Linked DNA regions of Homo sapiens. The protein of the gene in region 1 interacts with the protein of each later gene in a pairwise test. Each region holds a gene or a part of one and is shown on either strand. Other genes may lie near its edges. The genes, in order: RAC2 and AFG3L2.

Region 1 (3,812 bases):
CCACAGCTGGCGGAAGGCCAGACACGGGGTGAGGGGCCTGACAAATATCAGAGACGGGGAAGCCCAACGAATGCTGGGAGGGCCATCCCAGGGCTCCAAGCTCGGAATAGGGGAGGTTTTGCAAGCCAGTTCTTGCTACACACATCCCCGCGAGGAAGGTGCTGGCTACCCACGCTGTGGAAGGGAAAACTTGGCTCAGAGAGATGCAGTGACTTGCCCAAGGCCACACAGCCAGTGAGTGACCCAACTAGGTAAGAAACCAGAAACCAGTGACCACGACCAGTGCTCACTGCCCCAGGCCACAGCTGTGCCTCCGGGAATGCCCTCACCGCCTGCCCCTGAGGGTTAGGGAATCACTGTCACTTTTCCCGCTGTGGTCCCCCACACAGGCCCTGACCTGGTCCACTGAGACCTCCGGCTCCTCTGACTTCTCCTCCTACTCCTCCCCTCGCACACCAGCCAAGCCGTTTCCCGGGAAAGGCTCACACTGCCCACCTCCCTGTGCTGGTCCACACAAAGCCCCTGCCCAGAATGTCCTTCCCACCTTAGCTGTCCATATGTTCTCACCAACCTGGTCTCTGGCCCCCACACCCTCCAGGCTGCCCAGCCCTCCAAGCCTTTGATCCTGTCTGTATCTCCCTCTGGAATACGCTTCCAGCCCCATTTCACTCCCAACTTCTATTCATGCTTCAAAACCCTGCCCAGACAAGTCCTCCTCTCTGGCGGAGCTTCGTCGTCCTCTACCTGTAAAGAGCCCATGGTTCCCTCTCTCAGGTGACTACTTTGCCTGGACCACGAGCAGGCACTTGGTGAGTCTCCACCCCTTCAAGGGCTGTGGGTTCTGTGTGGGCCAGGCCGATGCCTGCTTATTCTCCACAGTCTCAGGCCTGTCACCCAGTGAATGCAGGTGGAAGGGAATTAAACCACCTCCTCCAGGAAGTCCTCAGAGAACGCTACTCAATGTTAGGCTGCAGAAGCGCTAACACTTCAGAGTAACACAAAAGACACCTCTCCTGAGAGGAGTCCCCCACACCCCCAAAAAGTGGGCAGCCCAGCCTTTTTAATACACTTTGCCTGTCCAGCCCTGGACAGAATTCCTGGTTACCTCTCAGTTCCTCAAACGGCCCTGTTCCCGCCTGTCTGGAAAGTGCCTGCAAACAGTGGCCCCTGACTTCCCACTCTCCTTCCTCTCTCCCTTCTCTTCCTCCCCACTGCCAGGCTGGCTGACTTTTACTCATCCCTCCAGCCCCTGCTCAATGTCACCTCCTCCAAGAAGCCTTTCCTGACTTCCAGCCATGTCGGGGCTACCACCCCACCTAAACCAGCACTCCTTGGGGAACTCAGCATCCCAGGTGGCAGGCACTAAGCCTCATTTGTTTGCCGCTGCACCCTGGGGCCAGCCCGCGGTCTGGTGCACAGCAGGTGCTGGCGTGCACCTACTCTGGGTACCACCTACACTGCTGTGGGATTTCAGGAAGAAGGCGCTGTCCAGGGAGACACAGTGAGGCATGATGGGAAAAGCCACACCTGTGTTGTTTTTCCAGTTTTGACCAGAAACACACTTTTGGGAAATGCTTGGACACTCTCTCCTCTAATGTCCAGCCACAGTGCTAGTGCCAAGAAGCCCCACAAGATTCACCTGTCTCCTCTGGGTCATCCCTGGAATCTCAGGGCCACGGTGATGGGGAAAGAGCTGGGACCTTGAGAAGCAACAGCCACCTTCTCTGAGGCCAGGCAGGGGGCTGAGGGTCTTTGTATGTTAGGTCTTGAAGTCTCATGTGATCCAAGACAAAAGGATCTTAAGTTACCCCCATTAGACAGATGAGGAAACTGAGGCCTGAAGAGGTCAAGGACCTTTCTTGTTGGGCGGGAACACAGAGTTCCTTGGGAAGCCAGGACATCCTGGCTGTGTGACCCTGGGTGAGTGACCTAACTTCTCTGAGCCTCAATCTCTTTAATGTGGAGGGGAAAATACCTATTTCTTGGAGCCATTAGGAGAATCCAAAAAAACAGAGGATGTTCAAGCCACCCCACTGGGAGATGCTGAGAAGCTAAGCAGTCTCATTTTCCATGTCCCCAAATGCCCCTGCCACAGGGCCCCTCCCCAGAGGACCAGAGGGACAGGTGCAGGAATGTGTCAATGGTGTGACACCCCTGAGGGTCCCCCTTACTTAAGAGACCCACAGGCAGCCAGGACCAGAGAGGAACCTTATGCACAGACCACCATGGGCAACCCTCACCCCATTTTCCGGATGAAGAAATTGAGGCTTACAGAGAGGAAGGGACTTGCCCAAGATCTCCCAGCCAGTGGGTGGCAGAGCAAGGCTAGATCCTGTTACCCAATTCAGAAAGGCCCACATGGTAAGCATCGCTGCTATTTCATGGCTGGAAATGGAGTTGGAGAGAGCAGAGACCATGTTTTCATCTAGTGCCTGTAGAACTCTGAGGCCTGGCCCTAGAATGGAGTGGAGGAGGGGAATGGGGCAGGTGGAAGGGGCCCCAGCACCCAGGTATCACCTGACCACCACCGAAGCCCACCCCCACGGAGGAAGGATGGTGCATTCAAGGAACCCAGAGACCACAGGGCACGCATGGCTAGTGACTTGGGGGTGAGAAAGGATTGATGTCATAGGGGCACGGACCAGTCAGGTCTTGGTTCTCAGGGCAATGGGGAACCAGCAAGGGGCCAAGCCAGGCAGAGGTGATGAGATCAGATTTGCATTTATAAAAGGTCCCAGCTGGGCACGGTGGCTCACGCCTGTAATCCCAGCACTTTGGGAGGCTGAGGCAGGTGGATCACCAGGTCAAGAGATCGAGACCATCCTGGCCAACATGGTGAAACCCTGTCTCTACCAAAAATACAAAACTTAGCTGGGTGTGGTGGTGCATGCCTGTAGTCCCAGCTACTTGGGAGGCTGAGGCAGCAGAATCGCTTGAACCCGGGAGGCAGAGGTTGCAGTGAGCCGAGATCGCACCACTGCACTCCAGCCTGGTGACACAGCGAGACTCCGTCAGGAAGGAAGGAAGGAAGGGAGGAAGGGAGGGAGGAAGGGAGGGAGGGAAGGAGGGAGGGAGGGAGGGACCCTCTTGGAGAAGTCTTAGGGAGGGGCCAGAGGGGAACAGAGGGGGAAACTGGCACATCAGCCAGGAGGGGAGGCCCTTACCGTGCTATTGGTTGAAAGATGAAGGCAGCTGGAGGTGTCACGGGGCAGGGAGAGGTGGAGCAGGAGGGAACAGAATACCCAACAGAAGGGGTGCCTGAGCTAAGGCAGAGGCTTGAGCCACTGGACATCATGAGGCACCCACACACACAGCGGCAGGAGCAGGGATGGGGCTGCCGAGAGGCCAGGCAGAACCTGGTGGGGCCTGGCGCACACAGCTAGGGAGGCTGATGTCATCCTGTCCACTGGAATCCCAGGCTGGATTCGCCAGTTTACCGAAGAGAGGATTTCAAATGAAAGTGAAAATTAAGTGCCAAATGATTCAACCTCAATTAGCAGCACACATTCTTCCATGCAGAGCTGAGCCCTGCCTTCCTCCCCGGGGTCGGGGAGGCAGTCATGACGGAGCAACAGGAATGGGCTCAGCTCTGTTCTAGAAACTGGCGCGATGGCAGGGAGTGAGGCAGATAAGGGCCCCGTCCTCAGGGAGCTTCCATCCAAGAGGAGGAGTGGCAGCAAAGGAGCAGCAAGATGAAGTCGGGCTGTCGGGGGGCCTATGAAGACAGCCAAGCAGGGTGGTGGGATGGAGAGGGCAGGTTGGAGACGGGGGGCTGCTGTAGACAGGGGGTCAAGGAGGCGATGTTTAAGCAG
Region 2 (3,812 bases), on another chromosome or scaffold:
ATTTACTTGGCCACAAAAAGGAATGAAGTTCTGATGCCTGCCACAATTTGAATCAATCCTGTTCATTATGTTAAGTGAACATAAACCAGGCACAAAAGACCACATGTTTTTATTTTTATTTTTTTGAGGTGGAGTTTTGCTCTTGTCACCCAGGCTGGAGTGCAATGGCGTGATCTCAGCTCACTGCAACCTCCACCTCCCAGGTTCAAGCGATTCTCCTGCTTCAGCCTCCCGAGTAGCTGGGATTACAGCACCCCCACCACCACGCCCGGCAATTTTTGTATTTTTAGTAGAGACAGGGTTTCGCCTCATTGGCCAGGCTGGTCTTGAACTCCTGACGTCAGGTGATCCACCTGCCTTGGTATCCCAAAGTGCTGGGATTACAGGTGTGAGCCACCGTACCTGGCCAAAACCACGTTTTTATATAATATGTACAGAATAAAAAAACCTAGAGAGACAGAAAGTTTGATTGTCTTGAGATGGAATCTTGCTCTCTCATCTGGGCTGGAGTGCAGTGGGGTGATTTAGGCTCACTGCAACCTCACCTCCTGGGTTCAAGCCATTCTCCTGCCTCAGCCTCCCGAACAGCTGGGATTACAGGCATGCACCACCATGCCCGGCTAATTTCTGTATTTTTAGTAGAGACAGGGTTTTGCCATGTTAGCCAGGCTGGTCTCGAACTCCTGACCTCAGGTGATCCACCTGCCTCAGACTCCCAAAGTGCTGGTATTACAGGTGTGAGCCACCGTGCCCAGCCCAAAATGTTTTAAAATTATAGTGATGGTTGTACAACCCTGTAAATATACTAGAAACCATTAATTGTACACTTTATACGGGTGATTTTTAGTTAACTTTATTTCAATAGAGCTTTTAAAAAAACGCTTAGGAATAATTCCTACAATATTTATAGAAAAAAATGATACACTGTCAAGAATTTTTCACAAAATACTCCCGAGGAAGCAGAAAGAGAAGAGGGTATAGATAAAAGTAAGGTCAGATGTGAATTAGTAATTGTTCCTGAAACTAGGTGACAGGTACAGATGGGTTCATTACACCATTTCCTCAAAATCTGTGTATGTTTGAAATTTCCCATAATAACAAAGTAAAAATAGTCGGGCACAGTGGCTCATGCCTATAATCCCAGCACTTTGGGAGGCCAAGGCAGGAGGATCACTTACAGCCAGGAGTTTCGGGCCAGCCTGTGCAACATAATAAGTAAGACCCTGTCTCCACAAAATCAAAAAATTAGCTGGGCATGGTGGTACATGCCTGTAGTCCCAGCTACAAACAAGGCTGAGACAGGAGGATCACTTGAGCCCAGAAGGTTGAGGCTACAGTGAGCTATGATTACACCACTCAGTCCATCCTGTGCAATTAAGTGAGACCCTGTCTCAAAAAAAATAAAAATGAGAATATAAACTTAGGAAGCCCACAGTAAAGAAGTGAAAAGGTAAGAAAGTAAACCGGTACCTGGTAACTGTTACTGATTTTAATATGCTTCTAAATAGGGTCCTCGTTATTTTCCACTCACCTGAAAACCCTGGAGTTAAAGATGCCAGTTTTCTTGCCAATTTATCCTTCTCCAGGGTACTGTCCAGTTTTAGCGGTCGGAGATGAACTTTGAAAATAGAAGCTCTTCCTTTTATGTCTGGTGGTCCTTTAGAAATCATTTTTAAGGAAAAGAAAATCATATTGAAACAGTCACACCTACACTCATGAGCACTGGACCTGCCCCAGCAAACATCATCTCACCAATAAAGATCTGCCTGTCGAAACGCCCCGGCCTAAGCAGCGCGGGGTCCAGGATATCTGGTCGATTGGTGCCGGCCAAAATGACGACATTTGTTGTTGTATTAAAACCTGAAAGATAACAAAAATGCAAACACTATTAAATGACAAGAGGCAGAAAGCAACAGTGCACCATCAGGAACATATGAGCACTGCAAATTCATAGCTACAGTAAACACATTTTCTATTCATTATCTAGTGTTTTTTGTTTTTTTTTTTTTTGAGACGGAGTTTCACTCCTGTTGTCCAGGCAGGAGTGCAATGGCGTGATCTCAGCTCACTGCAACCTCCGCTTCCCAGGTTCAAGCAATTCTCCTGCCTCAGCCTCCCGAGTAGCTGGGATTACAGGCATGCCCCACCACACCTGGCTAATTTTTGTATTTTTAGTAGAGATAGGGTTTCTCCATGTTGGTCAGGCTGGTCTCGAACACCTAACCTCAGGTGATCCACCCGCCTGGGCCTCCCAAAGTGCTGGGATTACAGGCGTGAACCACCGCCCCTGGCCTATCCAGTGTTTTTTAAGTTACAAACTTGAATTATTTTTTTACTATTCAGCTCGTCCTTGAAAATAATCATATATTAGACTTAAAAGTTTTACGAGTAAATTTCCTAAAGACAAATGACCAAATATTTAAATTTAACTAGAAATTTAACAGATAATGTCAATTTTAAAAATGTCTTAAAATCAGATTAAATTGGCAAAGGATGTGTCTGACACCCTGGGCCACAGGACAACCAACTGCCTATCTGAAGGCAGAGATCAACCTCTACCTCCCACCTCTTCTCCACACTCAAATGGCTCAGTGTTACTGCCCATTTCTCAGTGTAAATGCCATGGTCCCAGGCCCTTCACCCTCAGGACCCTGGCACGGCAGGAGCTCCTGGGTGAATTTCCCTCAGATGTGGTGCTCCAATGTGAACGCAACAGGGGCTGACCATCGCGGGACGGAGGAGGCTTTCTACCTCCTTATTCTGCCCCTATGCCTGGCTTCATCATTGAAGCCAGTTCAGTACTGGCACTGTGCTTCCCCTTTCTGCACAAACAACCAAGCATCCACATTTTTATCTTCCAGCAGGAAGAACACATGACATCCTGAGAAGTGGCTTTCCTAAATGAAATAAAAGCTGGCTAGCATGGAAAGACTGCTACTCTCTTAGTAAAAAAGTATTCAAAATTTGCTAAATTCACACTTGGTTAGGCTTAGATTTTCCTTATGCTTCAGAGATGGTGATGATTTAGAGAATGAGATGGTAATTCTTTTGTGACTCATTTCACCAATTCTTCTCTTATTCAAACACCAGACACAAACAGCATGTTAACACCGATATTAAGTTATGCAGGCTGCCAGGAAAAAATATTTTGCTATTATTTGTATTAGTATAAAAGGGCCTTTTAAAAGAGCTGTTTGTTTTAGGGAATGCTTTTTTTTGTTTGTGATACTCAATATTGGAATAAGGACTCTCATTTTGGGGACATGAAAGGCATAAAAAGTGCAGCTTAAACTCAGGAGACTGAGGCAGGAGGATCGCTTGAACCCAGGGGTCAGAGGATGCAGTGAGCCGAAATCACACCACTCACTTCAGCCTGGACGACAGAGTCAGACTCCATCTCAAAAAAAAAAACAAAAGTGCAGTTAAAGATACAAAAGCCTTGACCACTCACCATCCATCTCCACCAGCAGCTGGTTGAGTGTGTTCTCCTGCTCACTCTGCCCTCCAAAGTTGCCTCTTCCTCTCTTCCTTCCCACCGCATCGATTTCATCGATGAAGAGGATGCAAGGGGCATTCTTCCGAGCAAGGGCAAATAAGTCTCGGACCTTGGCAAAAACAGAAAGAGAGTCACCTGACCAGAGAATATTATGTATTCTCTGAATAAGAAATGAAATAAATCGGCCGGGCACAGTGGCTCATGCCTGTAATCCCAGCACTGTGGGAGGCCGAGGCTGGTGGATCACCTGAGGTCAGGAGTTCGAGACCAGCCTGACCAACATGGAGAAACCCCATCTCTACTAAAAATACAAAAT

Evidence for each region.
Region 2: the proteins of RAC2 (region 1) and AFG3L2 interact in a two-hybrid assay, tested with the Homo sapiens proteins (one large-scale study listed by BioGRID and IntAct).

What each region holds. Positions count from the first base shown.
Region 1 is NC_000022.11:37,234,173-37,237,984, forward strand, and holds part of RAC2 (ras-related C3 botulinum toxin substrate 2), read right to left. Parts: intron 1-3,812. UniProt on the Homo sapiens protein: Plasma membrane-associated small GTPase which cycles between an active GTP-bound and inactive GDP-bound state.
Region 2 is NC_000018.10:12,349,554-12,353,365, forward strand, and holds part of AFG3L2 (mitochondrial inner membrane m-AAA protease component AFG3L2), read right to left. Parts: intron 3,606-3,812; coding exon 3,452-3,605; intron 1,861-3,451; coding exon 1,753-1,860; intron 1,658-1,752; coding exon 1,532-1,657; intron 1-1,531. UniProt on the Homo sapiens protein: Catalytic component of the m-AAA protease, a protease that plays a key role in proteostasis of inner mitochondrial membrane proteins, and which is essential for axonal and neuron development.